Regions from separate parts of the Homo sapiens genome. Here all the other regions are linked to region 4. The links come from fine-mapping of genetic effects on gene expression. A gene starts in region 4. Each other region holds a variant in brackets. All regions are shown on one strand. Distances are between the middles of the regions.

Region 1 (4,067 bases), 35 kb after region 4:
ACACAATCAACACACAACTGTTGGTAATACAATGGTTTAAACAAGCACATTGAATAGACCAAAGAGTCAGATTAGATGGTCTCTAAGGTGCTCTGGATCTAACATTCTCTAATTCTAGAGCTGTCAATGAAATTATGGGCTTCTAATTGATGCTTCTTTCTCCTTCATTACTAGGACTTTCGGGTCTCAGTTTCCACATATGTAAAATTAGGAAGCTCCATTCTTCAAAGAGACATGATAGCATTTTCCCCAATCAACAGTCATGGGGGAAAAACCAGGTGCTTGGGTTAATCTAATATTCCAGCTAAGCAAAAGTCCCTGTATGTACTATAATTTATCTTCTTTCAAAGAATTAGCCATTGATACAAGAAGAAAGCTATCCTAAAATCCGAGGGAACAGAACAATCTGTGTCTGATGACTCAAACCACTGACAGCTGTGGAAAGCAGAGCATTGCAATCAACAGAGCAGAACTTGGGAGGGATCCTCTCTTTGCCAAGGTAACACTAGAACGCAGAACATTCCACCCATCAGACAGCAGAGTGCCTGGTGCTCCTAGAATGCTAATGCAGAGAGGTGGGAATAGAAGACAGGCCTGGGAGTGTTCCAGCAGCCACACTCTAGATCTCAGAAGATTAGCACTACCAGGGCTATTCACAGCTGAGGAGTTCAGTAAACCCTGCACTGGCTATGGCCTCATCAGCCACTATGTGCCTCTGCTCCTCCTTTGTCAACAAAACCTAGGATCTTCCTTCCAGGACTTGCTGGCATTTCTCCAGCTTGCTTCCTGTTTCCCACACAAGCCACCCTCAAAGCTGGGACCACACATGAGGCGCCATCCGACTTCTTCTCACTGTTGTGGCAACCCCAACACAGCGGCAAGGCAGACCCACAACTTGGCCAAATGCTGTGAGAAGCTTCCCCAGGCAACCAGCATAGGTTGAGGGCTGAGGCAGCTGCTACACAGGATGTGTCTCCAGTGATTAGACTCAGATTCCAGAGCTGAAGGGCATCAAGCCTAGGTCTTCAAACCACCCAAGAGGACTTGCCTCTGCACCTACTGGGAGGGGTGGCTTGGGCCTCCTCCCCCATTTCACCTGAAGAGGCTCCTCTCGTATGTGTTTTACATATGGAAGGTGTGAAGTAAGACTACTTTTTAAAAAGGATTTTTCAGGTTAAAAATCTATGGAATACTTATTTTCCACAATGAGATATTGTTTCACATTCACTAGGATGGCTAGCATAAAAAAGATGGACAATAACAAGCGTTGTCAAGGATGTGGAGAAGTTGGAACTCTCATGTATTGCTGGTGGGGATGTAAAATGACGCTGCTGCTATGGAAAACAGTTTGGTGGTTCCTCGAAAAGTTAAACATAGAATTGCCATAAGAACCAGCAATTCCACTGCTAGGTATATACCCCAAAGAATGGAAAATAGATGCTCAAACAAAAACTTGTATAAGAAGTGTACTTCACAGTAGCACTATTCTTAATAGCTAAGAGGTGGAAATAACCCAAATGTCCACCAATAGAAGAATGGATAAACAAAATGTGATGCGTCTATGCAATGGAATATTTAGCTATAAAAGGAATGAAGTATTACTGATCCATGCTACAACACAGATGAACCTTGACAACATTATGCTAAATGAAAGAAGCCAGATACGAAAGGCCGCATATTGCATGATTCCATTTATATGAAATATCCAGCACAGGCAAATGCACACAGACAGAAAACACACTGGAAGGGAAGAAGGAACAGGGAATGACTGGTAATGGGAATGGAGTTTCTTTTTTGGGAAGATAAAAAACGTTTTAGAAGTAGCTAGTGGTGATGGTTATATAATTTTGTGAGTATCCTAAAATCCCTGAATTGTACATTTTAAAAACTTAATTTTTTTTTTTTTGAGACAGAGTCTCACTGTGTCGCCCAGGCTAGAGTGCAGTGGCACGATCTCAGCTCACTGCAACCTCCGC[C/T]TCCCGGGTTCAAGTGATTCTCATGACTCACCCTATCGAGTAGCTGGGATTACAGGCACGCACAACCACACCTGGCTAATTTTTGTATATTTTAGTAGAGATGGGGTTTCTCCATATTGGCCAGGTTGGTCTTGAACCCCTGGCCTCAAGCAATCCACCCACCTTGGCCTCCCTGCTCCCAAAGTGCTGGGATTACAGGTGTGAGCCACTGCATCTGGCTATTAAAAGGATAAATTTTATGGAATGTAAATTATATCTCAATAAAAAACAAATTTTTAAAAATACATGTGATATATATTTAATTTTTTTTTAGAGCCAGGGTCTTACTCTGTCACCTAGGCTTGGAGTGCAGTGACAAAATCATAGCTCACTGCAGCCTCAAACTCCTGAGCTCATGCGATCCTTCTGCCTCAGCCTTTCCAGTAGCCACCTCACCTGGCTAATCTATTTTTTACTTTTTTTAAAGGTGGGGTCTCACTATGTTGCTCTTGGTGGTCTCAATCTCCTGGCCTCAAGCCATCCACCAGCGTCACCTCCTGAGTTGCTGGGATTACAGGTGTGAGCCACCATGCCCCTGACTCCATTGTGTGTGTGTGTGTGTGTGTGTGTGTGTGTGTGTGTGTGTGTGTATTTAAATGAACCGTTGCATTAATAAAAAGACAGGCATGGTCCAGAAAGGGGTAGAGACTCTTCCAGAATGGCTCAGCAAGTTGCAGCAGAAGGGGAGCAAGAGCCAGTGCCCCCCCTCTACCTGACTTCAGGTAGCTGGGCCCAGGATGCTTCCCTAGACTTTGGGTCAGCCTGGAGGAGACTGGTAGCTGAGGCTGCCCCTAAAGCTCTTGCATATTCACAACTTCGTTGAATCCTCACACAAATTCCCCATAGAGGGAGGCCAGGTAGAGACTAGTCCATCTGATCTATGGGAAACCTGAAGCCTCAGAGGTTACAAGAGTCACCAAGGGCTGGACCCTGGATTTCCAGGTCATGGGCACCTGCATTTCTACTGCATCATGAAGGTCTCATAATACAGTAGACCTGGGACACTTATCATTCTGCTGCATAAAAGAAAAAACCTACTTTTCCATGAGACTCTAAGATACCACAATGGAGATGAGCAGGTATATACCTGCATTTTGGGCTGGTCATACTTCCATAAAAGCAGGGCATCACAGACATAAGAGGTAAGCATACTACAGAGAGTCGTTTAAAAAGAAATTCTTGGCCAGACACGGTGGCTCACACCTGTAATCCCAGCACTTTGGGAGGCCGAGGTGGGCGGATCACCTGAGGTCAGGATTTCAAGACCAGCCTGGCCAACATGGCAAAAACCTGTCTCTATTAAAAATAGAAAAATTAGCTGGACGAGGTGGTGGGTGCCTGTAATCTCAGTTACTCGGGATGCTGAGACAGGAGAATATCTTGAGCCTGGGAGGCAGAGGTTGTAGTCAGCCGAGATCACGACATTGCACTCCAGCCTGGGCGACAGAGTGGAGACTCCATCTCAAAAAAAAAAAGAAAAAAAGAAAAAGAAATTCCTCATGTGCCTTCTCCCTAACTAGTGACTTTCCCTGTTCCTCTAAGAATCAGCCTCGCAGGCAAAGGAGAAGCCCTTTCCATGAGGAGCACTGCTCTTTCCTCTTCCAACAACTGCTGCGTCCCACCCAGCAGCCCAGCTGCTGTGCAAGCCCACCACTGAGAGACCCTCAGCTCCTCTGAGCCATATCACATCGTCCATCTTGGTGACCTTGGGTCTTTGACCTCTGTTCGTCTCAGCTGTCTCATGCATTCACTCAGGAAGGCGCCACCTTCCTGGCCCTGCTGTCTCTTTGGGATCCAACCAAGGTAATGAATGGAGGGATGGGGGTAGTTCTTGGGAAATTAGAGGACTGAACATTTCTTGCTATCACTATTACCTGTCGAAGGAGATCTCTCTTTTTCCCTTCTTCAGAAATAATTCTTGCTTTATCACCTCAGCGGACATCAGCAGGCCCAGGCATGAGTGACTCTGAAATGACTGGCAAACTCTGCTAGGCCAAGTGACCTGGGCTGGCTTTCCAGGGCAATGTCTGGCAGGCCTCCCGTCTGGGTAGG
Region 2 (4,067 bases), 600 kb after region 4:
CACGCGGCGGGGGTGTGTCCCGGAGGCGGCGGTGGAGTTGTGTTCCCGTTGAGGGAGTAACAACAGCGGGGGAAGCCCGAGTACGGAAGGGAACCAGTGGAAAAGCCCCGCACGCAAGCACCAGTCCGTTCCCAGGCCCCCGGAGGGCCTTATGGAAATATAATATCCCGCCGGGCGCGGTGGCTCCCGCCTGTAATCCCAGCACTTTGGGAGGTCGAGGCGGGCGGATCACCTGAGGTCGGGAGATCGAGACCAGCCTGGCCAACACGGAGAAACCCCGTCTCTACTAAAAATTAAAAAAAAAAAAAAAAAATTTAGCCAGGCGTGGTGGCGCACGCCTGTAATCCCAGCTACTCGGGAGGCTGAGGCAGGAGAATCGCTTGAAGCCGGGAGGCGGAGGTTGCGGTGAGCCGAGATCGCGCCATTGCACTCCAGTCTGGGCAACAAGAGCGAAACTCCGTCTCTCCCTCTCTCTCTCTCTCTCGCTCTCTCTCTCTCTCTATATATATATTATATATATTAGATATTATATATATTAGATATTATATATATTAGATATTATATATATTAGATATTATATATATTAGATATATATAGATATTCTATCCCATTCTATTATGTGTGTGTTTGTGTGTGTGTATTAACAGGCGACAGATAACACAGGAAAACAAGTTGGACGTAACCAATTTAAACAATGCAGTGGGCTTCGGTTTTTGAATTTCTTTTACAAGATTGTTTCCGCTTCACCCTCACTCCCCATGGCTGTCAGTTCAGGGGGTATTTCCCCAGAGAGTTTTCTCTGCATGCACACTCATAAATGTGTCTGCACATACACACGTATTAAGCTGGATAGAATCTCGCGCCACTAGCTACGGGTCGCTTTATTTTACCTGACAAATAATGTAGGGATCTTTTCATGGCGTGGTTGCTGAGGAAAGAGGCTGGGCTACCATAGACCACACGTTTTAGCTCCCACCCGGCCCCTTCAGCCTGGGCGTGCCCTGCCATCAAGCTCGTGTGCCTGTGCACCACCCAAGTTCATCTGTGGGTAGAGGCTCTGTCCTTGAGTCCTTGTGTGAATGGGTGGGGTGGGGTCTGCGTGTCCCTGGGCTCCTGGGAACCTGTGAGGCCTGTGAACAGCCTTTCGTCAGAGAGAAGTGGAATGATAATAACTGTAAAGAAAAAATATCCAAAACTTGGAAATAAGACAAAAAGGGTGTCTGTGTGCCCTTTCAATATCAAGCGAAGGCAGTGTCCGATGAGCCTGGGTCACCTGATCCTAAGCAAAGTTACCTGGTAACTTGTAAAAAGTGCACGAGTTGCAAATGATTTCTGACCTGTAGAAGAAATAACGCTAAAGCTTATGGTTTTGGTGCCCTGTAAGACATTAACCTATGTCGTAGCTAACTTTGCCATTTTATCCTCCTTTGAGTCAGCTTTGCCATCCTACCGGTTCCATCCTTAATGAGTTAAATAACACTTTGACATGTGCTCACTATACATTTGTATAAGATCCATGTTTTCAACTTTCTGAAAATAATTTTTGACCCAGTTACCCTTTCTCAAAGGCTCACTCGGTGCCAGGCACCATGCTGATGATGGCTTCCCATGGATGAAGAGGCTCAGAGGTGGGCTCTGGGGTGAGGCAGATCTGGGTACAAGTTCTCCTTTTGCCACTCACCGGCTATTAGACCCCATGCAAGACTTAAGCACCTACTGTGGACTGCATCCATTCACATTCTTATCCCTCATTCAATTCAAATTGCACAATAACACTGCACGATGAGGTCTGTTTTCACATTTTTCCACTTTGTGCATGTCTCTGCACACATCCCTTACCTCCCTGAGCCTCAGGGTCTCCGGCTGTAAGATGGGGTTGGTAACAGCTGCCTCCCAGCATTGTGTGAAGATGTAGTACAATGCTTGCAAAAGCAATCTGGTCAGCAGTACGAGGCTCGGGGAGGTGGAGTCATGTTCCCAAACCTCCAGAGCTGGTCCCAGCTCTTCTGCCTCCAAAGCCTGTGCGCTGGCTCCTCCTACTTCAGTCAATCAAGACTTCATTTCTTTTTTTTTTTTTTTTTTTTTTTTTGAGATGGACTTTCGCTCTTGTTGCCCAGGCTGGAGTGCAATGGCACGATCTCGGCTCACCACAACCTCCGCCTCCCAGGTTCAAGTGATTCTCCTGCCTCAGCCTCCCTGGTAGCTGGGATTACAGGCATGCGCCACCACGCCTGGCTAATTTTTTGTTTTTAGTAGAAACAGGGTTTCTCCATAGTGGTCAGGCTGATCTCGAACTCCCGACCTCAGGTTATCCGCCTGCCTCAGCCTCCCAAAGT[A/C]CTGGGATTACAGGCATGAGCCACTGCACCTGGCCTCAAGCCTCCATTTCTACAGAGGGATAACAAAACCTCTGGGAGCTGTTACTGGTTGATAGCAAACTCTGCCTGGCAGAGGGGTCAGCTGTTGTGGCAGCTGCAGACAGTTAGTTCTGTGGTTGTGTGAAGGGCTCAGATGCACGTCACATATCACGGTCATCTGTGAGTTACCTTTTTTGTTCTTTCTTTTTAAGGCTGGCACCTGAAAAGAGATTTTTTTCCCCACTCTCAACAAGGGGAGCATTTGTGTTCTGAGCTCCAGGCTTTGGCTGGGGGGTCCCTCGGCCTCCCAAAGTGCTGGGATTACAGGCGTGAGCCACCACACCTGGCTCTATGTACTTTATTTTGTGTGGTTTATACCTTAATAAAAAGGCAGAAAGAGAGGGAGGGAGGGAAGGAAGGAAGGAAAGAAAAGTGGGTACAGTGATCCTTGCCTGGCCTGGCCTCCAGGACAAAGTGAAGAGGCTGGTACCCAGGCCTCTCTACAAATAGTGGGCAGAATGGCACCAAGATATAGTGTTGACAGCAGACAGAAGAGAGAGAGGCTGGTGTCGGGCCTGCCTGTCTTTCTTTAGCCCCCATCCTAGGCGTCTCCCAATGGGACATTCCCTCCATAGTGGAAGGCAGATAGTACTACCTGATGGAAGACAGAAAGTGGGACTTTGGAATCACACCTACTGGCTGTGTGACCTTGGCCATGTTGCTCGCCTTCGCTGGGCCTCAGGCTCCTCATCTGGAAAATGGGAACAGTACTCTCAAAGAACTTCAGTTGACTGGGCATGGTGTCTCACGCCTGTAATCCCAGCACTTTGGGAGGCCAAGGCAGGCAGATCACCTGAGGTCAGGAGTTTGAGACCAGCCTGGCCAACATGGCAAAATGCCATCTCTACTAAAAATACAAAAATTAGCCGGGCATGGTGGCACGTGCCTGTAATCCCAGCTACTCAGGAGGCTGAGGCAGGAGAATGGCTTGAACCGGGGAGGCAGAGGTTTCAGTGAGCCGAGATTGCGCCACTGCACTCCAGCCTGGGCAACAGAGTGAGAGTCTGTCTCAAAAAAAAAAAAAAGAAGAAGTGCAGACAGGCTTGAGACACTGGCTGAAGTGCCCTCAGCACAGAGGGTTTGCTTTGGCCAGTGTTCCACAAATGCAGCTCTTACTGGCCTCAACCCCAAGTGTGAGGGAGTGCCAGCCTTGCTGTCACTGGGCTTATGGACAGGTGGGAGGTGATGTTGGAGTCATGAGTTCCAGCCCTGATTTTTTTCCACTTACTATCTGTGTGACCGTGGGCCTGTCACTCTTCAGTAAAATGCCTTCCTTCCTAAGTTGTCATTGTATTCATTCATTCATTCATTCAACTTTGGGCAATTTCCTATGCTTTTCTGTGTTTCAGTTTGCTCATCTCTAAAATGGGGTTAACAGCCCCCACTGCAAGGGTTGCTGTGAAGATGAACGGAATTTGCACTTAGAACAGTGCCTAGCACAGCAAGGACTCAGAGGCACTGTCTGGTATCACTATTTGTGCCCATCTGTGGATGAGCTCCTGCTGTGTGGTGGGCACCAAGGGTGCCTGTGGGGCTGGCAGTCCAGCTGAGGGCTGGGCATACCCTTCATGCAGGGTCACGCAGGTAGATGACAAGGAAGCCCCAGAGCACTCTGCCTTCCAAGGCTACCACAGTAACTGGGCCAGATGCACA
Region 3 (4,057 bases), 43 kb before region 4:
ATAGGAATTGGTGTTGGGGGGGGGGTTTGCAAGAATATTTTATTTTAATTTTTTGGATGAAATTTTTATCTATTATATATTAAACATTCTTGCTGCTGCGCTGCAAAGCCATAGCAGATTTGAGGCGCTGTTGAGGACTGAATTACTCTCCAAGTTGAGAGATGTCTTTGGGTTAAATTAAAAGCCCTACCTAAAACTGAGGTGGGGATGGGGAGAGCCTTTGCCTCCACCATTCCCACCCACCCTCCCCTTAAACCCTCTGCCTTTGAAAGTAGATCATGTTCACTGCAATGCTGGACACTACAGGTATCTGTCCCTGGGCCAGCAGGGACCTCTGAAGCCTTCTTTGTGGCCTTTTTTTTTTTTCATCCTGTGGTTTTTCTAATGGACTTTCAGGAATTTTGTAATCTCATAACTTTCCAAGCTCCACCACTTCCTAAATCTTAAGAACTTTAATTGACAGTTTCAATTGAAGGTGCTGTTTGTAGACTTAACACCCAGTGAAAGCCCAGCCATCATGACAAATCCTTGAATGTTCTCTTAAGAAAATGATGCTGGTCATCGCAGCTTCAGCATCTCCTGTTTTTTGATGCTTGGCTCCCTCTGCTGATCTCAGTTTCCTGGCTTTTCCTCCCTCAGCCCCTTCTCACCCCTTTGCTGTCCTGTGTAGTGATTTGGTGAGAAATCGTTGCTGCACCCTTCCCCCAGCACCATTTATGAGTCTCAAGTTTTATTATTGCAATAAAAGTGCTTTATGCCGGCTTTTCTCAGCTCTGTGTCATGGTGGTTATTTTCAGGTGCCTCCCCTGCCATTTGGTGCAGGGGGATGGGGTTGGGCAGGGTGAAGGAGGGTGGCAGTGGGGATGCAGTTTCAAGATTGTGTCTTGGCAGAAGAATGCAGCAGTGAACATCCTTCCTCACTGGCTATTAACGGGTTGGGGGTCAGAGGAGGGGGAATGTGGGGTAGGTTTGCATCAAAGGAGCTGCCTGAAAGGGCAAGCTGGGATAGTCAGGGAACATCCCCTCCCCTGTTACCAAATGTTTATTAAATATGTGTTCTGGGTAGAGCACTATGCTCGGGGTTCTTGGGTTACAGAAAAGTGGGAGATACAACACATTTTTGAGAAGTGAGTCACAGTCCACTTGGAGATGTGCTACAAGCAACTGCAAGCAAATTAATGAGATACGAAGAGAAGACTCTGATTTTAAATTGGTATTCCTCAGTAACATTTAATGTAGAAAGACAGTCCTGTGGAGAGGCTGCGTGGTTGCAGTAGCTTCTCTGGACCCTGCCCTGGGTGCCAGGAACACTTTGCCCTTACTGAGAGTTCTAGAGACCGTCAAGAATGCTCCCACACCTTTCTAGACACCTTCCAAAATTGCCCAGGTTGAGAACCATTGATTTTAAAAAGGAAATTATTCAACAGCTTGCTTAATGGCTTTCTAAGTTCTTTTTGTTAATTTATGGTTTTTAGAGTGCCAGAGTCATATTCCAGGGTCACATCTTACCATCCCCAACATTTTTATAAAAATTCTCAAACAACACAAAGATGATTAAAATGAACACCTGTATACCCACCACCTAGATTCTATCATAAACATGTTACTGTATCTATATATCACCTGTCTATCCATCTGTCCATCAAACTATCCATTATGTCTCTTCAGAGTAAATGGCAGACATCACTACAATTCCCCCAGTACGTGTCATTGACTAGACTAGAGAGTAGTGTTTGTTTACACTTTTGTGCCCCTGCCAGGATAAAGAACATCACCATACCAGAAAATTCCAATATGGCCTTCCCCAGTCAACCCCACCCCGCCCTTGGAGGTGGTAATTGTAATTCTTTTCCACCATAGGCTAGTGTTGCCTGTTCTGACATTTAATTTAAATGGAGTCCCACACTATGTCCTTTCGCACAGTCAGTATTGTGCCTTCACTCAGGCATATGGGAAGCTGTTCTC[A/C]CTGAACTTGGCATTTCAGGGAAATCCTCTGGATTGGGGATGGGAGTCCTCAGAGATGTCCACATCCTAATCCCCAGGACCTGTGAATGTGTCACCTTACATGGCAAAAGGGACTCTGCAGATGTGGTTAGGTAAGGACCCTGAGATAGGAGGATTATCTGTATTTACCTGGGCGGATGCAGTGTAAGCACATGGATCCATATAAGCATCAGTGAAGGCGACGTGAGGGTGGACAGACTTTTGAGGATGCTAAGCTATTGGCTTTGAAGATGGAGGAAGGAGAGCAACAAGCCAAGGAATGCTGGCAGCCTCTAGACGCTGGAAAGGGCAAGGAAACGGATTTTCCCCTAGGACTCCTGAAAGGAACACAGCCCCACCCATACCTTAATTTTAGCCCTGTGATGCCCACTTTGGACTTCTGACCTCCAGAACTGCAGAATTTATTACTAAGGTGATAAGTTAGTGTTGCTTTAAACCATTTGTTAACAGCAACAATAGGAAACTAATACAGGGCCAACTTTTTTTTTTTTTCCCGAGATGGAGTCTCACTCTGTATCCCAGGCTGGAGTGCGGTAGCGTGATCTCGGCTTACTGCAACCTCCGCCTCCCAGGTTCAAGTGATTCTCCTGCCTCAGCCTCCCTGGTAGCTGGGACTACAGGCACGTGCCACCACGCCTGGCTAATTTTTTGTATTTTAAGTAGAGATGAGGTTTCACCGTGTTAGCAGGATGGTCTCGATCTCCTGACCTCGTGATCCGCCTGCCTTGGCCTCCCAAAGTGCTGGGATTACAGGCGTGAGCCACCATGCCCGCCAATATTATTTTTAATGTATAACAGAATAATGTCAGGGTTTTGTTTTTTTTTTTTAATCCAGGATCCTACCACCCTAACAAACAAATCCAACTTCAATTTTTTTTCTCCTTCCTATTTCTTGCCCTAAGCACTTACAACGTTTAGCTTTAATCACAACGTAGTACAAATTTTGCATTTCTGCTTTTTTCCCCACTTGCCATTTTTATCAGGAGTATTTGTCCCTGTTGCCATATGGTTTTTATAACTGTTTTAAGAGGGCTGCTAAGTAAATTATACCACATGAACATTAAATTTACTTAACTACCTTGTTAAAGGATAATTTTTTTAGAAGTTAAAATTATGACTCATACAAATATAAAAGTAACATGTTAAAGATGATTGTATTTAACTTGTTAATTATTGAGAGAACCAGTAGGACACTTTAATTGGCTCAAAGGAGAATCCAAAGAACAAATAATTATAAGCCTAGCAGGAATGCTGAAATGAGTTTGCTTCGTAGTTACAAAACTGGCAAAATTGGCTGATACCTGCAGAACAATAATCAGTTATATTCCATTGGTCACAATTTGCATTTCTATGAACAAGAATCATCTGCATTATCAGTTTCCCTTAATTTACGTAATTGTAAAGTAGCTCAAAGGCAGTGAAATGAAAGGGAATCAACTCAGAAAGGTGGGCTAGATTAGACAGAACACTCAGTAATTGGAGGCAGGGGTGGGGGCAGTGGGCAAGACCTATTTCAAAGTCCTTCACAGTGTTTCCTGATAGCCTGTATTTGGATAGCTGGGTTATGTCCAGTTATTTGCTTTTATTAAATGTCAATACATCTTTGAACATTTTTTTCTTTCCTAAATACCTAGGTTCTATAAGATATAATACTGTTAATAGTAGGGGATCCCTAGGGTCAAAGGAGATTTTGACTTTTGATTAGTGTTGCCAAGTTGACCAGAGTTGTATAAGCCTTTTCCCATGCCAAAAACAAAAACACCATCCATGTCCAATGGCTATCACTTCCATAGTGTCCTAAAAAAAATCTTTAAAAACCTTCCTTTCTCCAGTGGTCCTCTGCTATGTCGTGAATGTGTCTCCCAAAGTTCCATGTGTTGGAAACTTGATCCCCAGTGCAGTGGGTGTGGGGAGGTAGGACCTAATGGGAAATGGTTGGGTCATGGGGGCTCTGCTCTCATGAGTGGATTAATGCTGTTATTATGGGAGTGGGTTCCTCATAAAAAAATGAGTTCAGCCACCTATTGGCCTCCAGCCCTCTCTCTCTTTCTGC
Region 4 (4,067 bases):
GTCAGATTATAGGAGCCAGGCAGCCTTTCAACCTAACTCGTTAGGGCCATGGTTTCTCTCCTTTTCCAGGCCCAGGTTATTCTTCGAAAGACTTTCTACTTATTGACTGCAAACACAGACAGGCATGGGAAGAAAGACTGTATATTTAGGATATCAGGCTTTCTCTTCTCTCTGTGCCTGCTTTTCCACTCCTTTCAGAAATAGTAATGGGATGCCTGTTGTGTGCCAGGCACTGTGCTCAGCACTGGGGGTTAACAAATGAGTGACATTTCCTGACCAGTGAGGGAGATGAGCAAACAAACACAGCACAGTGGAAATCCAACCTAGGAAATGCAGAAGGCCTTGCTCATAGTAGGTGATTAACAAACACTTGTGGAATATATGATGAAGAGGCAAATACAAGAAATGCTGTCGTCTAGAGAAGGGAGGCTTGCCAATCTCCATGCGTACAGGTGGGGGAAAGCTTTAAATTGGAGGAAAAAGAGTTCACAACAAGGAAAAGAGAGAAGGCATGAATGACTCTTAAGACAGAGGGAATAGCACCTGCAAAAGCATGGAGGCATGAACTAGCAGGCTGACTTTTAGGACTCAACCTAAAGTAGTCTGGAATAAATGAACTTCATGATAAGTGTGGAGAAGAATGAGATGGTGAGAATGGAAACATTACCAGAAGTCAGGTCACAGAGATTTGAGGGCAAGAAGTAGGTATGGCTTCAGAAGGGAAAGGGAGGAGCTGAGGATAACTCCCAGATTTCTGACATAGCCCATGGGTGGATTCAGTGAGACCGCTGGGGAGGCGCGGCACAGCTGGGGAAAATCACGAGTCCAGTTTGGATAATCTGCGAGGTAAACGGGATCCAGAAGGCAACTGGACTCTCAGGCCTGGGCCTCCCTGTCCCTGGAATAGCACACTCTCTTCCCACTTGAACATCCATCCTACACGGCCCAGTCAGGGTCTTCTTCCTTCCTCCAGGAGACCTTCCTGATTGCCCTAGCCTTCCTCCTATACGCCACATCCAACTGCCTGAGTCCCTCATAACAGGCTTTCGGTCTGATTTTGCTGTGGGAATTGATTTGCCCGGCCAAGCCAAGAACCCTTCCCTAGGCAGCAGAAGCCCAGTCACTCAGTCACTGGTGGGTGGGACGCGGGGTGAATCTGCGTAGGGTGGGGCGGGGCATTTTTAGCTCAACACTGGGTCAGAAGTCACGGCCAGACAAGAAACGGGTGAGAAACGGGGGAGGAAGGGTGACGTCACAATTGGTAGGAAATACCTTGGGACTTGACGCTTTCGAAACCAAAGGGAGAGCAAAAGCAGCCGGGAGCGCGCGGGCCGACCTGGTTCTCCTCCCTTCCCACGGCTGCCTTAGTACAGAATCTTATAAGTCCTCCTCCTTCAGAGGCTACAAATGGTGTTCCGAGGCCAGGGGAGTTTAAAGCTCGATTTCACCCGCGCAGCCTCCAATCCGGTAAAGAGGGGCCGCGGAGCCCGACCAAGTCTTCCTATGCCTTACTCTGCTGCTTTACCTGATCTATTTTTGTGGATGCCGGCGCCAGCTACGGGCGCCCGGAGAAAGCACGAGGCCGGGTGGACTCTGGTAACGCAAGCGGCAAGGAGGCCGCCATGTTCCACTCTGCAGCCGCTAGGGATCGTGGGAGTCACCCCTAACCGCGCCCGGGCCTGGGTGGGCGAAACGCATGCGCTCTAGAAGTTGCTGAGTCGCTTGGCGGTGTTTCTGCGCAGGCGCCGTAGCCCATAGCAACCGCCGTAACCTGTAGCAACCGGAAGATGTCGCTTCCGGCTGGTTTGGGGCTAAGAAAGGGGTTATAGTCATTTCGAGATCATAGAACGATGTGACAGATAGGAAACTGAGGCTGGGTTGGAGGCAGGCCCTAGGGACCGTTGCGTTGGACCTCGCTCCTGTGGCGCGGTGGATGGAGTTTGTGGCTTGTGGCTCCTATTTCCCAAAGCAGGAAATTGAGACAGAGGGAAGGCACAGGTTCGTCCTGAGGCTGCAGCCCAGGTGATGGTTCCCCGGGTAAAAAATCAATATGATGCCCTTTGTTTATAAGGAGAAGGCAGGGACATGAAAGTAATTTCTAATAAAAGAATATGCATTTCACTTTGTAAAAGCTGAGGCTGGCTTACACCCGATCACGCTTGTACCCAACTTAGGAATCAGCTTAGGTTTACTAGAAGACAATATTCAGCTGAATTTTGCCAACAGTTTATATCTGACATCTTGAGTCAAAGGCTAAATATATTTATATAAAAGCGCGGAGTCACTGTGACAGCTACACATGTACACAGACGTGAGCATGCTGTTCGGGTGACTCACCCGTGGGGAGCAGGGTGGGCAGCGATTTTCCAGAATGGTGAGCAAAGTGTAACTCCCCACAACCAACCTGATATATGCATTTCCAGACAGTCTAGTGTGTACTAAAACTAGGGAAAAATTCATTGTGATTGTATGTACAACCAATTATAACGGATTTTTGGCTTACTTGAAAGTTTGGCAGGATATCTGAAAGTTGTGCGGGACAGGACCATTTGTTATGGTGACTGTAATGGACTGTCCCATCCATTACAGGAGTTTCATATCCCTGCCCCCCCCACCCCCGACAGGGATATGACTGTCCCCTCAGTCTCGTGACACCCAAAAATGCCCACATAAATTTCCAATCTGTTCCTTGGAAAACCACTGATTTATTCAGTCAAATAATTTTTGCTAGCATATGTGTGCTGGGCAGTGCCGTGGCGGGGAAGGATCGTGTGTGAACGGGACAGAGCTCCTGCCCTTATGAGTGAGGTCCAGTGTAAGAAAATACCCAGATATTAATCACATAATTTGATAAATAGCTTGGCAACAGGGGCAGTACAGGTCAGGGGTGGAATACATGGGAAGACCCAGCCAGGCAGCCTGGGTATCATGCAGTCTGGAAAAGCCAAGCAGAGAAGTAGCATCTGAACTGAGCCTCGAAGGAGCATCACACCAAGGAGGATGATGTGCACAGCAGAGGGACCAGCACGTCTGGCACACAGTGGACACTCAAATGTTTTGAATGATTGAACGAAACACAGCATGTTCGCTGGCAGGGAACCATTCCCCATTATATTGTGAGCTGCTACAAGGCAGGGGATACAGTATGCCTTTCCTATCCCCAGGTTTCACATCCATGGATCCAACCAACTGTAGACAGAAAATATTTAAAAATAAAAATTAAAAAAAACAACAAAAATTCAAATAAAAATAAAATATAACTTTGTTTAGCATTTACATTGCATTAGGTATTGTAAGTAATCTAGAGATGATTTAAAGTATACAGAAGAATGTGCATAAGTTATATGCAAATATTATGCCACTTTATGTAAGGGACATAAGCAGCTGTGGATGTTGGTATCCGAGGGATGGGGAGTGAGGGGCATTGTCCTGGAACCTACCCCAAGGAACGACTGTACCTGTTTTCTCACTTCCCCGCATCCCAGCACTAAGATGGGATCCAGAGAAGGTGGCAGTGGTGAAAGGATCTCAGACACAGAAAAAGGGTTATGTGATCTGGCCCGGGAGTGATTTCCAGGAAATGGATCTCTGACTCCCTGCTCTCCCAGGGGACAGCTGACAAAAATATAAGTGCTCTACTGGTTAAATGTTAGGAAAATCAGGGCAGGAGTGGCTGCTTATTTTCGCATCTGCTGTTCATGCGTGGTCCTGGTGGCAGGTCATGTTTTGGCAGATGATAGCTGCTCAGGACTGTCCCAAGATTAAAAATCTCATAGTGTGTGTACACAGTGGGGAAGGCTATAAGCAAAGGGGTCTCTTCCCCCAGGTGGTCTAAAGGAAGTCAGAGCCAGACTCCCTCCCCTCCCAGGAAATTCCTGTCCTGTTGGGATGGTCATTTCTACCCCAAAGGCCAGGCTAGGGCAGGGTCTGGAACTGGCTGCCTCCAGGAACCAAGCAGGCAACGTAAATCAGTGAAGGGCTGATGGGTACTTGCGGAAACAGGAAAGCACGTACAGCCCCATTTGCGAGGTAGGCTGTGACTCAGCCGGGTGAGTGTTGCCATGCAC
Region 5 (4,067 bases), 34 kb before region 4:
ATCTTGCAATATGTTGTTTTGGTTGAAATCTATGAAGAAATTACAACTAAGCACATTTTTAAGGACGCTTGTGTCTGAACAGATAGTAATACAGAAACCAACATAACGAGAAATACCTGGCATCTCTTTATCTGAGGACTTTGCTAAATGGGAAATATTTAGTCATCTTCTTGAAAAGAATTTATCCAAACTTGCATTGGTAGAAAACAAAACTGGCTTTGTTTCCCTGTATAAAAACCACTTAGCACTTCATTTGTATATTCAAATGTAGTTTGTGAAGAGAGCAATCAGAGAAATCATGTATCCAATTTGTAAATACAATTAACCAAGAGAATATACAGGTCAGATCGCCCTTCAACTGGTCTCACAATTGCCATCACAAACTGAGTCAGCTGGCCAAAGTGATGGGGAGACATTCTGAGAAATGTGTCATTAGGAGATTTCACCATTGTGTGAACATCATAGAGTATACTTACACAAATCTGTATAGTATAGCCTACCTACCACACACCTAGGCTATACGGTACAACCTGTAGCTCCTAGGCTACAAAACTATACAGCAGGTTTGTACAGTGACTGTTGAATACTACAGGCAATTGGAATACAGTGGTAAGGATTTGTGTATCTGAACAGATCTAAACATAGAAAAGGTCATGTGTCACTACATGACGTTATGCCAGTTGGCAATAGGAATTTTTGAGCTTCATTATGGTTTTATGGGACCACTGCTGTGTATGCAGCCCACCACTGATGAGAACATCATACGCAGTGCGTGACTGTACTTCGACCACCAGGGGTACAAGTGCATGGACTGGACAGAAGGAAAACCTCAGAGAACCTGAGGATGTGGATAAGACTGTTTAGTGAGGTTCTCAACTCATCACAAGCTACCAGGTATTCGGCATGGAGGGGTGGTGACAGTTATGCAGGACATTGACATATGATGATACAGTGGTCATTCTTACATAAAATGAAGAAGACTGTCCAGTAAATTCTATGAGTTTGCAGTAGATGGATCATCAAAGGATATGGGTAATCTTGTAGTAACAGGACTATGTTACTAGGAATTTCACTAGTCCTGTTACTAATTCATAGGCCATGGAGCAATATAAGACCAAGGTTACAAACCCCTAAAATTGTCTGGAAAGAGAATGACTTTTTTATGTACTTTGGTCTGAGCATGTGATTCATAAGTATATGACAGCAGATCAATTCAGATACATCCAGAAGAAGCCATCCTTTATTCTGAAATGTCCTAACCATACCTGAAATAAATACTAAGTGATGCACCAGAATTTTCCTCCCTGGGATCAATGAGCAGTAGCATTGAGAGCAGAAACGGCAGCCGTGGTAACAGGAGCTGCTGTGGTCAGTAGGCTCTCAGGGTCTGTCAGGCAAGAGCATAGGATAGTGACAATTCAAATGAAAGCAAAAACAAACATAAAAAGGAATGAACTACTGAAATGCCAACAATATGGATGAATCTCACAGATATTATAATAAGTAAAAGGAACCAGACTTTTTTTTTTTTTTGAGACGGAAGCTCACTCTGTCACCAGGCTGGAGCGCTGTGGCGCGATCTCGGCTCATTGCAACCTCCGACTCCCTGGTTCAAGCGATTCTCCTGCCTCAGCCTCCTGAGTAGCTGGGATTACAGGCATGTGCCACCATGCCCAGCTAATTTTTGTATTTTTAGTAGAGATGGA[G/A]TTTCACCATGTTGGCCAGGATGGTCTCGATCTCCTGACCTTGTGATCCACCCACCTTGGCCTCCAAAAGTGCTGGGATTACAGGCGTGAGCCACCGTGCCCGGCCCAGACTTTTACAAACATTACGTTCTATGTGATTTTCTTCATATGGAACTCTAGAAAAGACAAGTTCAACTTACACTGGCAGAAATCAGGCCAGGTCTGAGGCTCAGGATGGAGGAAACTGACTAGGAAGGAAGACAAAGGGAACCTTTTGGGGTAATGGGAGTGTTCTATATCTTGATTGTGGTTAGGGTTACATGGATATACACATTTGTCAATCTCATGGAAATGTATACTTTAAATGGGTACATTTTATTTCATGTAAATTACACCTCAAAAAGTTTATTTAAAAAATACATGGGGCTTCCATGTTCACACAAGATAAAGTAAGTGGACTCCACCCTATTCCTTCTGCTAATTACAACTAAAAACTAGACAAAATACATAAAGCAACTATCAGAAACCTCTAAAGGTGAAGTAAACTAGGCAGACTGGCAAGGAAACTTAAGTCTCAAGGGATGACCTGGCAGGGAGTTCCCAGAGGCTTTCGTAGTGTTCACGTATTTCAACCTGGGCACTAGAGGAAGGCACAATCTGAAATGACCAACAAGCACAGACAACAAAAGTCCTAAGGAAAATGCTTTCTCTAGTCAAAGGACCTAGAAGAGGACAGTAATGAAGGATGGCCTTTTTTTTTTTTTTTTTTTTTGAGATGGAGTCTTGCTCTGTCTCCCAGGCTGCAGTGCAATGGTGCGATCTCGGCTCACTGCAACCTCCGAGGATGACCCTTTTGACAATACTTGCTCTACTCCAGGTGAACACCATCAAAGAAACCACAGCCCTCCTCTCCCCAACAGGCTCTGCAGAGACTGGTGTGGAGTTCGGTGAACCATCCCTGCTGTGCACGAATGTGGGGGCAACACTCCCCTTCCTCACCAGTGATTCTGGAGACAAGTGGAGCTCTATTAATGAGCCCCATCCTGCACTAATGGGATAAGAGGTGACACCCCCTCCCTCCTCCTTCTTCCCATGGGATGCTATGGACACTCTAGGGTAGAGCCCTGTTGACTACCACCTGTCCTGCAGTAACAGAGGCAGCACCTACCCCCTCACAGAGAGTGTGGGCAGAATAACAGAGAGGAGGGAGCTGCGGAAAAAGCGTCTTTCAATTTGTGCACATCCCCAAGTGGCCTATGTGTGAAACTCATCAGAATTAACACAGCAAAAGCTTTAAGAACTGAGCTATGCTGTGGAATACCACTCGGGTTTCTGGGTATCCACTGGTCTCTGGGTAGCACACAGGCAGAGCAGACCAAGATAACGCTGAATTTGAAACCAAACTGACATTCAAACTCACAGACCACAGAAGTGAGTCATGATGTGCATTCTGAATTGAAGCAGGTTGAATGCATGCTAAAGTAGAAAATATAAAAAGGAATCAGAGTTTCATAATACCCAAAGTACTGATAATATTGAATATTACTTGTCATGTCAGAAAACAGAAAAAGTCAACCAGAATGAGAACAGGCAATCAACAGATGCCAATACCAAGATGGTACTGATGTTGGGATTGTCTGGCAAGGATTTTTAAAGCAGCTATCATTAAAAAACAAACAAAAACACTTTTAACAAGAAACTATGAACACTCAAAAAACAAAGGTTCAATAAATAAAAGATACAAAGAAACCCCAGCCGGGTGCGGTGGCTCATGCCTGTAATCCCAGCATTTTGGGAGCCCAAGGTGGGCGGATCACCTGAGGTCAGGAGTTTGAGACCAGCCTGACCAACATGGAGAAACCCCGTCTGTGCTAAAAATACAAAATTAGCTGGGCGTGGTGGCGTGCACCTGTAATCCCAGCTTCTTGGGAGGCTGAGGCAGGAGAATCGCTTAAACCCGGGAGGCGGAGGTTGTGGTGAGTCAAGATTGTGCCATTGCACTCCAGCCTGGACAACAAAGAGTGAAACTCCATCTTAAAAAAAGAAAAAAAAAGAAAAAGAAACCCCAAATGGAAGATTTATTTTATTTTAAATCATTTTTAAAAAAATAGAGACAGGGTCTCACTACATTGCCCAGGCTGCTCTCAAACTCTTGTGCTCAAGCAGTCTGCCTGCCTCAGCCTCCCAAAGCGCTGGGATTACAGGTGTGAGCCACTGTGCCCAGCCTATTTTATTTTTTATTTATTAACTTATTTCTTTTGAGACAGGGTTTGTCTCTGTCACCCAGGCTGGAGCGCTGTGGCGTGATCTCAGCTCACCTGCAAGCTCCACCTCTTGGGCTCAAGCGATCCTTCCACCTCAGCATCGTGAATAGCTGGGACT
Region 6 (4,067 bases), 59 kb before region 4:
GTCTGCTATGTACAAGACACTGTCCTGGCTACCAAGAATTTAGGAGTGAAGAAGACACAGTTCCTGCCTTCATCTCACACTGTAGTGGAAAAGACATAATAAATATGATTAATAAGCAAGACTGTTGTGTATAAGCTAGTAAGTGTTAAGGAGGGAATAGGAAAAGGTTGAGGTTTTAGATAGATTGGCAAAGGCCTCAATGAGAAAGTGACATTTGAGCAAAGACTTGAAGGAGGTAAGGATGTAACCTATGTGACTGTTTGAGCAAGATCATTTTAGGCAGAGAGAACAGCAAATGCAAAGGCCCACGGGTGGAGGTATCCCTGGTGTGTATGTAGAACATAAGGAAACAATGTTCTGGGACTGGAAAAGTACAAGAGTAATCAGAGGTGAAGTCAGAGGGATGGTGGTAGGGGCGGAGGCTTGACACTTCTTAGAGGGTCTTGTAGGCCATTTTAAGAGTTTTATCTCCTGAGATGGGGGAGTCACAGGAGTTTTTCAGCCGAGGGGTAGTAGGGTCTGGCTGCTGTGTCAGGTTTAGACTGTAGGAGAGCAAGAGCAGAAGCAGGGAGACCAGGGAGGGAGTTGTAATAATAGTCTGTAACAGAGGTCCAGAACTCATGCCTTTAACCATTATACCCTATAGAAAATGCATATTTCTACCACTTCCAGCTAGCTATTGTTAAGTGGTATTTCTTTTGATTTTTTTGGAGATGGAGTCTCACTCTGTCGCCCAGGCTGGAGTGCCCTGGTGCAATCTCGGCTCACTGCAACCTCTGCCTCCCGGGTTCAAGCAGTTCTCCTGCCTCAGCCTCCCAAGTAGCTGGGACTACAGGCGCACGCCACCATGCCCGGCTGATTTTTTGTATTTTAGTAGATACAGGGTTTCACCATGTTGCCCAGGCTGGTCTCAAACTCCGAAGCTCAGGCAGTCCACCTGCCTCAGCCTCCCAAAGTGCTAGGATTACAGGCGTGAGCCACTGCACCCGGCCTAGTGGTATTTCTTTCTCCCCCTCCCCATGCGATATAATGTGGTAGTAACTCCTCTTATTTATACTGTGATTAAAGTGGAAAATGGAGAGACACACCCACAGGGCATGCATTCTGGTCTGTGTTCTTTTTATTGCCGTTGGATCCTGCATATTCTTCCCATCATGGGCCCTGCCTTTGAAAATACACTTTTGGTTATAGGATCTAAAGGGATTTAGCCAAAGGTTAGAAGCATTTCCATACTGCGTATGGGAAATGTGCTTGCACTGTTGGTGATCTCAGGAAAATGATAGTGAGAGTGAGCTGGTTCCCTCTTTGGGTTGGCACTTGGACCTTTGGTCATACCCCTCACTCATAAGGAGTTCTCAGAACCCCACTTCAGGGAGGTTGTGCTGGAATACAGCCACAGAGACCCAGAAATGGAATAATAAGAATGTAAGATTTGAATTTGTATCTTTTGCCTATCTAAATGTAGAATCCCTTTTTACCCATCATGATTGAGACAAGTGGGTAGTTGGTATGCTAACATAAAAGTGACATGGCTTCTGTAAACATTTGATTTCAAACTCTAACATAAATCATTTGCTAAAGGACTATGTCTTTATCTTTGAGGATGGCTCTGCTAGTGGAGTTTCCCATCATAGTTCTTGCAAAAACCAATTTGACCTTTTTTAAAGTAGAGCAAAGAGTATTGTGAGAACATTTAAAAACCAAACCTTTCCAGATTTTTAAGATTTCTTTCTCTAAATGTAGTCTCCCATATGATTATTCACTAGCAATAGTTTTTTAGTGACTTGCCTTTATTGAGTCTTTCCCAGGAGTCAGCTAGAACCGCTGTTTGTATTCACACTCATTTTATTGATTTACATACTATTTAATTACATTATATTTACACAGTAAATATAGCTACCATAAATGGATTTGGGGACAAACACAGCTAACCACTCCTCCCTTTGTGAACACAGAACTCATATGGGAATGAAGAAGTGATCATGAGCTAGAGACTAAAGCATGAGGGGAGTGCTCTTCACTATGCTGGGGTACGAAGGCTGTGAGTTTTATGAGTCTCCAAGTAAGGCAGCTGAGTAAAAGGTGGTTAAGAGAACTTCTGTGTCTAATAAGAAGAGGGAAAGCAAACAGCTAAACCATTAGACCTTGAGCCATACGCCCATCTGGGAATGTTCTGAGTGGCTTCAAATGCAAAGCTGCAGAAAAATACTGGCTCCCCCTAC[C/T]TCCACCCATTCAACCATTACACCTTTTTTTTTTTTTTTAAGAGACAGAGTCTCGTTCTGTTGCCCAGTCTGGAGTGTACTTGTGCGGTCATAGCTCACTGCAACCTCAAACCTCTGGGCTCAAGTGATCTCCCACTTGATCCACTCAAGTAGCTAGGACCATGTCTGGCTAAATTTTTTTTTTTTTTTTTTTAATTTTTTGCAGAAACAGGATTGGGGACATGAGTCTTGCTGTGTTGCCCAGGCTGGTTGCAAACTCATGCCAGTCTCAAACTCCTGGCCTCAAGTGATTCTCCTGCCTTGGCCTTCCAAAGCACTGGGATTACAGGCATGAGCCTCCTCCGCAGCTGGCCTCATTGTACTTTTTGTCATTAAGAAACTCACCTGCGTGTTGAAAGTAGAAATCCTTTTCCCTCTCCAAACTGTAAATGGCAAGGACTTTATTTTATTTTGAAGGTTTGGGGCTTAGGATATTCTGGTTTTTTGTTATGTTTGATTTTTGGTTTAGTTTAGTCATTTTTTTTTTTTTAATCTTAAAACTTCCCATATTTTGTCCCTGTAAAATGCTGCCTATAGGAAACACTCCTGCAAAGATTCATGAGCAACTATAAACTGCATTGTGAGTCATGAGCTTTCACTACAAGTAGTGAAGCCATAAGTCTGTAGAGGTGCCTTCTTCAGTCCTGTTACCCAGTAGAAGGTATATGGCACTCTGCCCTTCCCCAAAGCAGAGTGCCTTGGAAGTGACTCCATTTCTATTGGGTTATTAGTGAAATAGTATCCCAGTGGTCCTTGTGAATCTCCAGGTCCTGGTCTTGAGTCTTAACCACCGCTTCAGTGGCTTGAGCCAACCACCAGGAACACAGTCTGGGGATACTTTGCTGCCCAGGAGCTGCTGGCCAGGTCTCCCTCTGCTGATTCCTTGAAAAGCAACAGGAAAGAGCAGGCTGCTGTGGAGTAGACAGACTTGAGACTCTCTGCACCGTCTTGTTTTGTAAACCCTTTTGCTCCCTTTCCAAGGATTTCAGTTCAGGAGGAGACCCAGGCGAAGATGACGTCAACAGCCTCTGCATGCAGTCAGTCATAGCTTTGGCTTCTTTCATGGTCTTGTGCTTTTAACTGGAGCACATTTTCACATTTTTCTTACTGATTAGTAACTAAAGGTGCTTAAAGTAAAGTTTACCATTCTGGGATTACCCCTCATATTCTTGTTACCATATAGGGAAGAAGGTCTAAATATGAAGGCCTCATGCTTGTCCTTCTGGTTCTTAAAAATCATGCAAGTAAAGCAAATCCAAGAGTGCTCTTGAGTACCAGCACCATACGTGCCACCAGGACACAGAACGCAGGCCAGGTCTGTGAGCTTGGGCTGCATTCAGTCAGGAGAGCCAAGACTAAATACTTAAAATAAGAATATGGAGCTATTCCAGGCAGTTTGTTAGGCATGAGTTATAGGCTTGTACGGCCAGGAATGAAATTGGTCAGTTCTGCAATTAGAAGGCAATGCTTGTGATGTTTTATGCTGAGTGGCCTTTAGAGCTTAAAGACTGTCAGCTGTCTTGTCTGCACTGTAACCTCAGTTGCCTTCTCTGAGCAGGGCACGCTTTCTTTAGGAAATTATGGCACTAACTTGGCAGGTGGTTTCACTGTTCAAGGGCTCCAGCTCCTGGCACAAGTGATCTCCAGAGTTAAAATTGGAGCAGCTGCTGAGACTTGACTTGCTGCCTGCTTTACCTGTTCCCTCCCCAAAGAGAGGAAGCACTTTTCATTCATTGCCAGTGTGTATGTGGGAGCTAAACATATATAGCATTTTAGTAAATGCCACTGCCTACTCTTTTTCTTTTC
Region 7 (4,067 bases), 53 kb before region 4:
TCTCTGTATAGCTCTCTCCTGCTGGTACTGTGTCCTATGGACTCTAGGTGCCTTGAGCTCCACTCCAGGTCCCTCTCCCTGGAAACTCCCAAGGATATAGGGCTGCCCTTGTTTCCCATGTCTCAGGATTTATTGTTCTTCATTACAGATGTCTGGTGTCCTACAAACCATCGTTGTAGCTATTTTGTCTAGGTGGTTTTTAGGTTTTAGTGGACTTTTTGTAGGGAGGAAGGGGTTGGTTGGTTGGTTGTTGGTTGTTTCATGAACAAATCTGATCCTTGTCCTCCACCGTGACCAGAAATGGAAGTTCTCACTATCTGTTTTGACATTACAGACTGAACAGCATAATTCCTACACATGCACACTCATTCCAGCTTAACAAACACTGCTTCCACCTTCTCCCCCAGGCTGACAACTTAGGGCCATAGATAAGTGGCCTGTTCCTCCCCACTGGGGAAGCCCTCCTTCTCCTTGTCCTGTAGCTTGTGCCAGTTGTGTGACACCCACTTAATCACATACCACCCCACCCATTTCGGGGGATTATTGTTTAGCTTTCGGACTCGATTATGGGAAATCCTCTCCTTGGACTCAAGGAACCCCAACATCACTGCCACCACCCAACCCTGCCCTGCGAAGATTTCTCCTTAGAAAGTAGATGAGATTGACAGTTGGTGACTGTGGTCTGAAATTCTGGAGCAAGTCTCATGCCCCTTTCCCAGGGACAACAGAGCATCCAAAATAGCATAGGAAAATTAAGATCCTAGGCAAAGGTCCTGTTTAAAGCTCCTTTACTTAGAAATCCTGCTTCCTGGCTTTTATGGTTTTAAGATACTAGGGAGAGGTTTGCCCCTCAGTGTCCAAGATAGGCTCAGGAGAGCTGGGGTTAGACAGGCATCCTCACATAGAGCCACTGAAGAACATACACATCTCCATGCTGGCTCAGCAGCAGCAGCAGCAGCAGATTCAGGCTGTGTCCTGCCTAGTGCTCCTAGCCTGGTACCAGTCAGATAGATAGTTGAAGTATCTCACCTCAGGCAAAGCAACATTGATACATTGATGCATGTAGTGTCTGGAGGTTGCTTGGCATTGCATTTGATCAGGAATAAAAAGGAAGTTTAGGGAGTCTGTCTCAGTACCCTGTGGCTTTCACTGCAATCAAAATACGATCTTGCACAGGTCAGAGCCGTGTTCAAGTTTGGCAAGAAATAAGGCTAATTTTTTATAGGTATACCGTACTTTCCAAATTGTGGGTTATGAACCATTAATGCATCATGAAATAAATGTAGTGGGTCACAATCAGCATTCTTTTTAAAAATGAGAAGTATATGCCATGTAGTAACTTACATGTAAATTTTGTTTATACACAGACAAAATGTGGGTGTGTACTGGGTCCTGACATGAGACACTGTTCCCATTGTCGCGGATCAGGGATAGTTCTTTGTGGTTTTAGTTGTTGAGTTCTGTTTCTTTGTTATTCCTTTCGTGGCAGCACTACATTGTAGCGTGCTCACTAAGTGTCAGAGGTTTACCTCACGCCAGTTGTGTTCATTTGGCTGCAGGTAACTGAAGACCCAACCTAAGGCAAAGCAGACTTCTTTATTTTTGTAAGACTTCATTAAGAGCAGTTTCAGATTCTCAGCAAAATTGAGAGGCATGTACAGAGATTTCCCATATATCCCCTGGTCCCACACATGCATAGCCTCCTGTTATCAACACCCCCCACTAGAATGGTACGTGTGTTGCAATTGACGAACCTGCATTGACACATCATGATCACCCAAAGTCCATAGTTTACATTAGGGTTCACTCTTGGTGGTGTACATTCTGTGCATTTGGACAAGTGTATAATGGCATGTATCCATTATATATAGTATCATACAGAACATTTTCACTGCCCTAAAAATTCTCTGTGCTCCATCTGTTCTTCCCTCCCTCTACCCCTGACTCCTGGCAATCACTGATCTGTTGACTGTCATCCTAGATTTACCTTCAAAGCACACTTTTAATCACCTCAGAACATGAGTCTTGAGGGAAGTGGTTTGGGGCTGATTCAGAGCACTGGAATGACCACCTTGTGGTACGCCTGGCCTTCTGATAGTCACAGGGTGACTGCCATGCTCCAGACATCTTATCCTCACACAGCATTCAACAGGGAGGGCAGGAACTTTCTTCCCGAGTCTTTGTTTTTCTTTTTACTAATGAGGT[G/A]GGACTTTCCTGGAAGATCCCAGTAGACTTCACAGCAGGTAAAGTAGTGCCCAAACTGACCCGTATAGGGGAAGGGCTTGGATTGATTCGAGTTCATCTGCTGGGCCAGGCTGTTGTTGCTGTCGTTGCTCCTGGGAAGTTGTTGTTTAATTAGGAAGGTGAGGGTGCCACACAGCCTTGCTTCCAGGTGGCCCCTCTGGGCATGTTTTTCTTAAAATAACAGACCAGAGAGAAGCTCTTTCTGGTTTTCAGTCTCCTTTGTGGCTCACAGGCCCTGCCACTCCGTGGTTCTGACCTTGGGTGGGTTACTGAGCCTTGGAGTCGGTTTCCTTATTTCTGTTACAAGCAGTCTCACGAGGGTGGATGGAAAGGCTCCCTGCCTGGCCAGGGAATGGAGAATCATAGCTGTTCATTGCCTGCTCTCACCCTTACCTCTGAGGTTGGTTGGGTTGGGTTCCATGTAAGAAGTGCAGCTTGAAGTGGGCTAAAGGCAGTGTGTTTATTGGGTATTGTGGAGCCTGGAGACCTGTTTTTCTCCCAGGTACTCATTTATAGAGAACTGTTCAAGTCCTGCCATTAGTCATTTCTTTCATCAGGTGGTGACTGCATTCTGGTAAACGAATGAGCTAAATGCATACCCCAGCTCACCAGTTCTGGGGCACCAGTTCCTTGGAGCAGGTACCGGTCCCCACCCTCCTGTCTACCTCTTAGTCCTCAGCTCCCAGCTCCAGGCTTCAGGCAGCATTGGTACCCATTCTGCCCCAGGACATCCGTCTCTACTCCTGCTCTATTAAGATACCACCACCCAACCCCCACCCGTTTCTTACTTTGTTAAAGTCCACATAGTCCAGTAGCTGTGATAACACTGCCAATTCATCTCTGCCTCCCCATCCTACTTACAAATGTTGACACTGTTTTTTAGGTTGGGATTTTTGTCAGGATTTTCTTTTTTTCCTAAACTCTTACACAACAGAACTGTAATGTTTTTATGGATCTTCTGAGTAATGAATGCTTAGAACCATGGTGAGTGCCCACCCTCAGTCTTCCAGTAAAATCAGTTTTGTGTCCATTATATGTTAACCACTGGCTGACCCTCCAATCTGGGATCCTAATTAGAGAATTCTCAGGAACTCAGTGTCAGCTATCACAATAGGCTGGCAGTGGCTTCCTGAGAAAGCAATGCCGATGGTGTTTTTGAAAAGGAAGTTGCAGATATCTATTGCAGATGTCTGTTCCTCTTTTCTCATAGCGTCTCTGGAGTTCCCCTTTTATTGGAAGGCGCCGTCGTGGCTTGTCCAGCTTCTGGGAAACTGGAATAATAGAAAGAGCATGGTATTTGGGTTTATAATTTATAACGTAGTTTTACTATTTTACTAAATTATAAATTTACTATTTTTATAATAGTAAATTTTACTATTTACTATTTTCACTTCTCCCTGTCTGCCTCAGTTTCTTCATCTGTGAAATGGGGATAGTGCTGTGGAGAAAGAATTGCATTCGTTCATGTGTGGAAAGCACCTAGCCCATTTAGAGTAACTCAGAGTGGAACCACTGGCCACAGAGTTGCTAGCAGTTGGCTGGGTTTACTGAGTTAATTCTTGAAGGGCCACCACTGCAACCTCCTTAGTATTCCTGTTCTCTTCAGTCATCTCTGTTACAAAGTATTAGCTGTGCAAAAATGAGCATGGGTTGTTTTGTGGGGCAGCATTGGATAAAATAAGTGGGATGAATGCTGCACAAATTCTTTCTTTCATTTCTCTATTTCAGCCTAGGTTGGTTTTTACTTTCCCAGGAAAATTATGACAACTCAGGAACCAGCCTACAAGGGGCCAGCTTTACGCCCCAGGTTCCCTGTTGGTGTG

Direction of the effects. Alleles are on the strand shown, and positions count from the first base shown. SD is a standard deviation of normalised expression in the study named. Not every link is listed here.
For the expression in esophagus mucosa of the gene that starts at base 1,712 in region 4, A is the low allele of the variant in region 2 and C is the other (small effect, 0.26 SD a copy in GTEx).
In carriers of allele C in region 3, the expression in caudate of the gene that starts at base 1,712 in region 4 tends to be lower than with A alone (moderate effect, 0.71 SD a copy in GTEx).
For the expression in whole blood of the gene that starts at base 1,712 in region 4, C is the low allele of the variant in region 6 and T is the other (moderate effect, 0.72 SD a copy in Lepik 2017).

What was found. PIP is the estimated chance that this variant, and not a neighbour inherited with it, causes the effect.
Region 1: its variant is the best candidate, but not a certain one, in a credible set for the expression of SDCBP2-AS1 in whole blood (INTERVAL, PIP 0.61).
Region 2: its variant is the best candidate, but not a certain one, in a credible set for the expression of SDCBP2-AS1 in esophagus mucosa (GTEx, PIP 0.81).
Region 3: its variant is fine-mapped to the expression of SDCBP2-AS1 in caudate (GTEx, PIP 0.93).
Region 5: its variant is fine-mapped to the expression of SDCBP2-AS1 in whole blood (INTERVAL, PIP 0.92).
Region 6: its variant is the best candidate, but not a certain one, in a credible set for the expression of SDCBP2-AS1 in whole blood (Lepik 2017, PIP 0.50).
Region 7: its variant is the best candidate, but not a certain one, in a credible set for the expression of SDCBP2-AS1 in whole blood (TOPMed, PIP 0.69).

Annotation. Positions count from the first base shown.
Region 1 is chr20:1,288,051-1,292,117 of GRCh38, reverse strand. The region is part of intron 2 of SNPH (syntaphilin); the gene reads right to left. Among named protein-coding and RNA genes, the nearest start is that of SNPH, 24 kb to the right of the region's middle. The variant C/T (reference allele first, on the strand shown) is at 1,977.
Region 2 is chr20:724,033-728,099 of GRCh38, reverse strand. No RefSeq gene overlaps it. Among named protein-coding and RNA genes, the nearest start is that of SLC52A3, 42 kb to the left of the region's middle. The variant A/C (reference allele first, on the strand shown) is at 2,337.
Region 3 is chr20:1,365,691-1,369,747 of GRCh38, reverse strand. FKBP1A (FKBP prolyl isomerase 1A) reads left to right here. Exons shown (of 5, transcript NM_000801.5): 5 at 1-770. All of the region lies in intron 2 of FKBP1A-SDCBP2 (FKBP1A-SDCBP2 readthrough (NMD candidate)), which reads left to right. The region is part of intron 1 of SDCBP2-AS1 (SDCBP2 antisense RNA 1); the gene reads right to left. Among named protein-coding and RNA genes, the nearest start is that of MIR6869, 25 kb to the left of the region's middle. The variant A/C (reference allele first, on the strand shown) is at 1,966.
Region 4 is chr20:1,322,988-1,327,054 of GRCh38, reverse strand. SDCBP2-AS1 (SDCBP2 antisense RNA 1) reads right to left here and starts at 1,712. Exons shown (of 3, transcript NR_040049.1): 1 at 1,526-1,712. The region is part of intron 1 of SDCBP2 (syndecan binding protein 2); the gene reads left to right. The region is part of intron 2 of FKBP1A-SDCBP2 (FKBP1A-SDCBP2 readthrough (NMD candidate)); the gene reads left to right. LOC124904856 (a long non-coding RNA gene) reads right to left here. Exons shown (of 2, transcript XR_007067487.1): 2 at 2,686-3,189. RefSeq lists enhancers at 1,136-1,430, 1,421-1,650.
Region 5 is chr20:1,357,019-1,361,085 of GRCh38, reverse strand. All of the region lies in intron 2 of FKBP1A-SDCBP2 (FKBP1A-SDCBP2 readthrough (NMD candidate)), which reads left to right. The region is part of intron 1 of SDCBP2-AS1 (SDCBP2 antisense RNA 1); the gene reads right to left. Among named protein-coding and RNA genes, the nearest start is that of SDCBP2, 30 kb to the right of the region's middle. The variant G/A (reference allele first, on the strand shown) is at 1,707.
Region 6 is chr20:1,382,033-1,386,099 of GRCh38, reverse strand. The region is part of intron 2 of FKBP1A (FKBP prolyl isomerase 1A); the gene reads left to right. All of the region lies in intron 2 of FKBP1A-SDCBP2 (FKBP1A-SDCBP2 readthrough (NMD candidate)), which reads left to right. Among named protein-coding and RNA genes, the nearest start is that of MIR6869, 8.9 kb to the left of the region's middle. The variant C/T (reference allele first, on the strand shown) is at 2,223.
Region 7 is chr20:1,376,246-1,380,312 of GRCh38, reverse strand. The region is part of intron 2 of FKBP1A (FKBP prolyl isomerase 1A); the gene reads left to right. All of the region lies in intron 2 of FKBP1A-SDCBP2 (FKBP1A-SDCBP2 readthrough (NMD candidate)), which reads left to right. It overlaps SDCBP2-AS1 (SDCBP2 antisense RNA 1), which reads right to left. Exons shown (of 3, transcript NR_040049.1): 3 at 1,578-3,515. Among named protein-coding and RNA genes, the nearest start is that of MIR6869, 15 kb to the left of the region's middle. RefSeq lists an enhancer at 1,725-2,924. The variant G/A (reference allele first, on the strand shown) is at 2,206.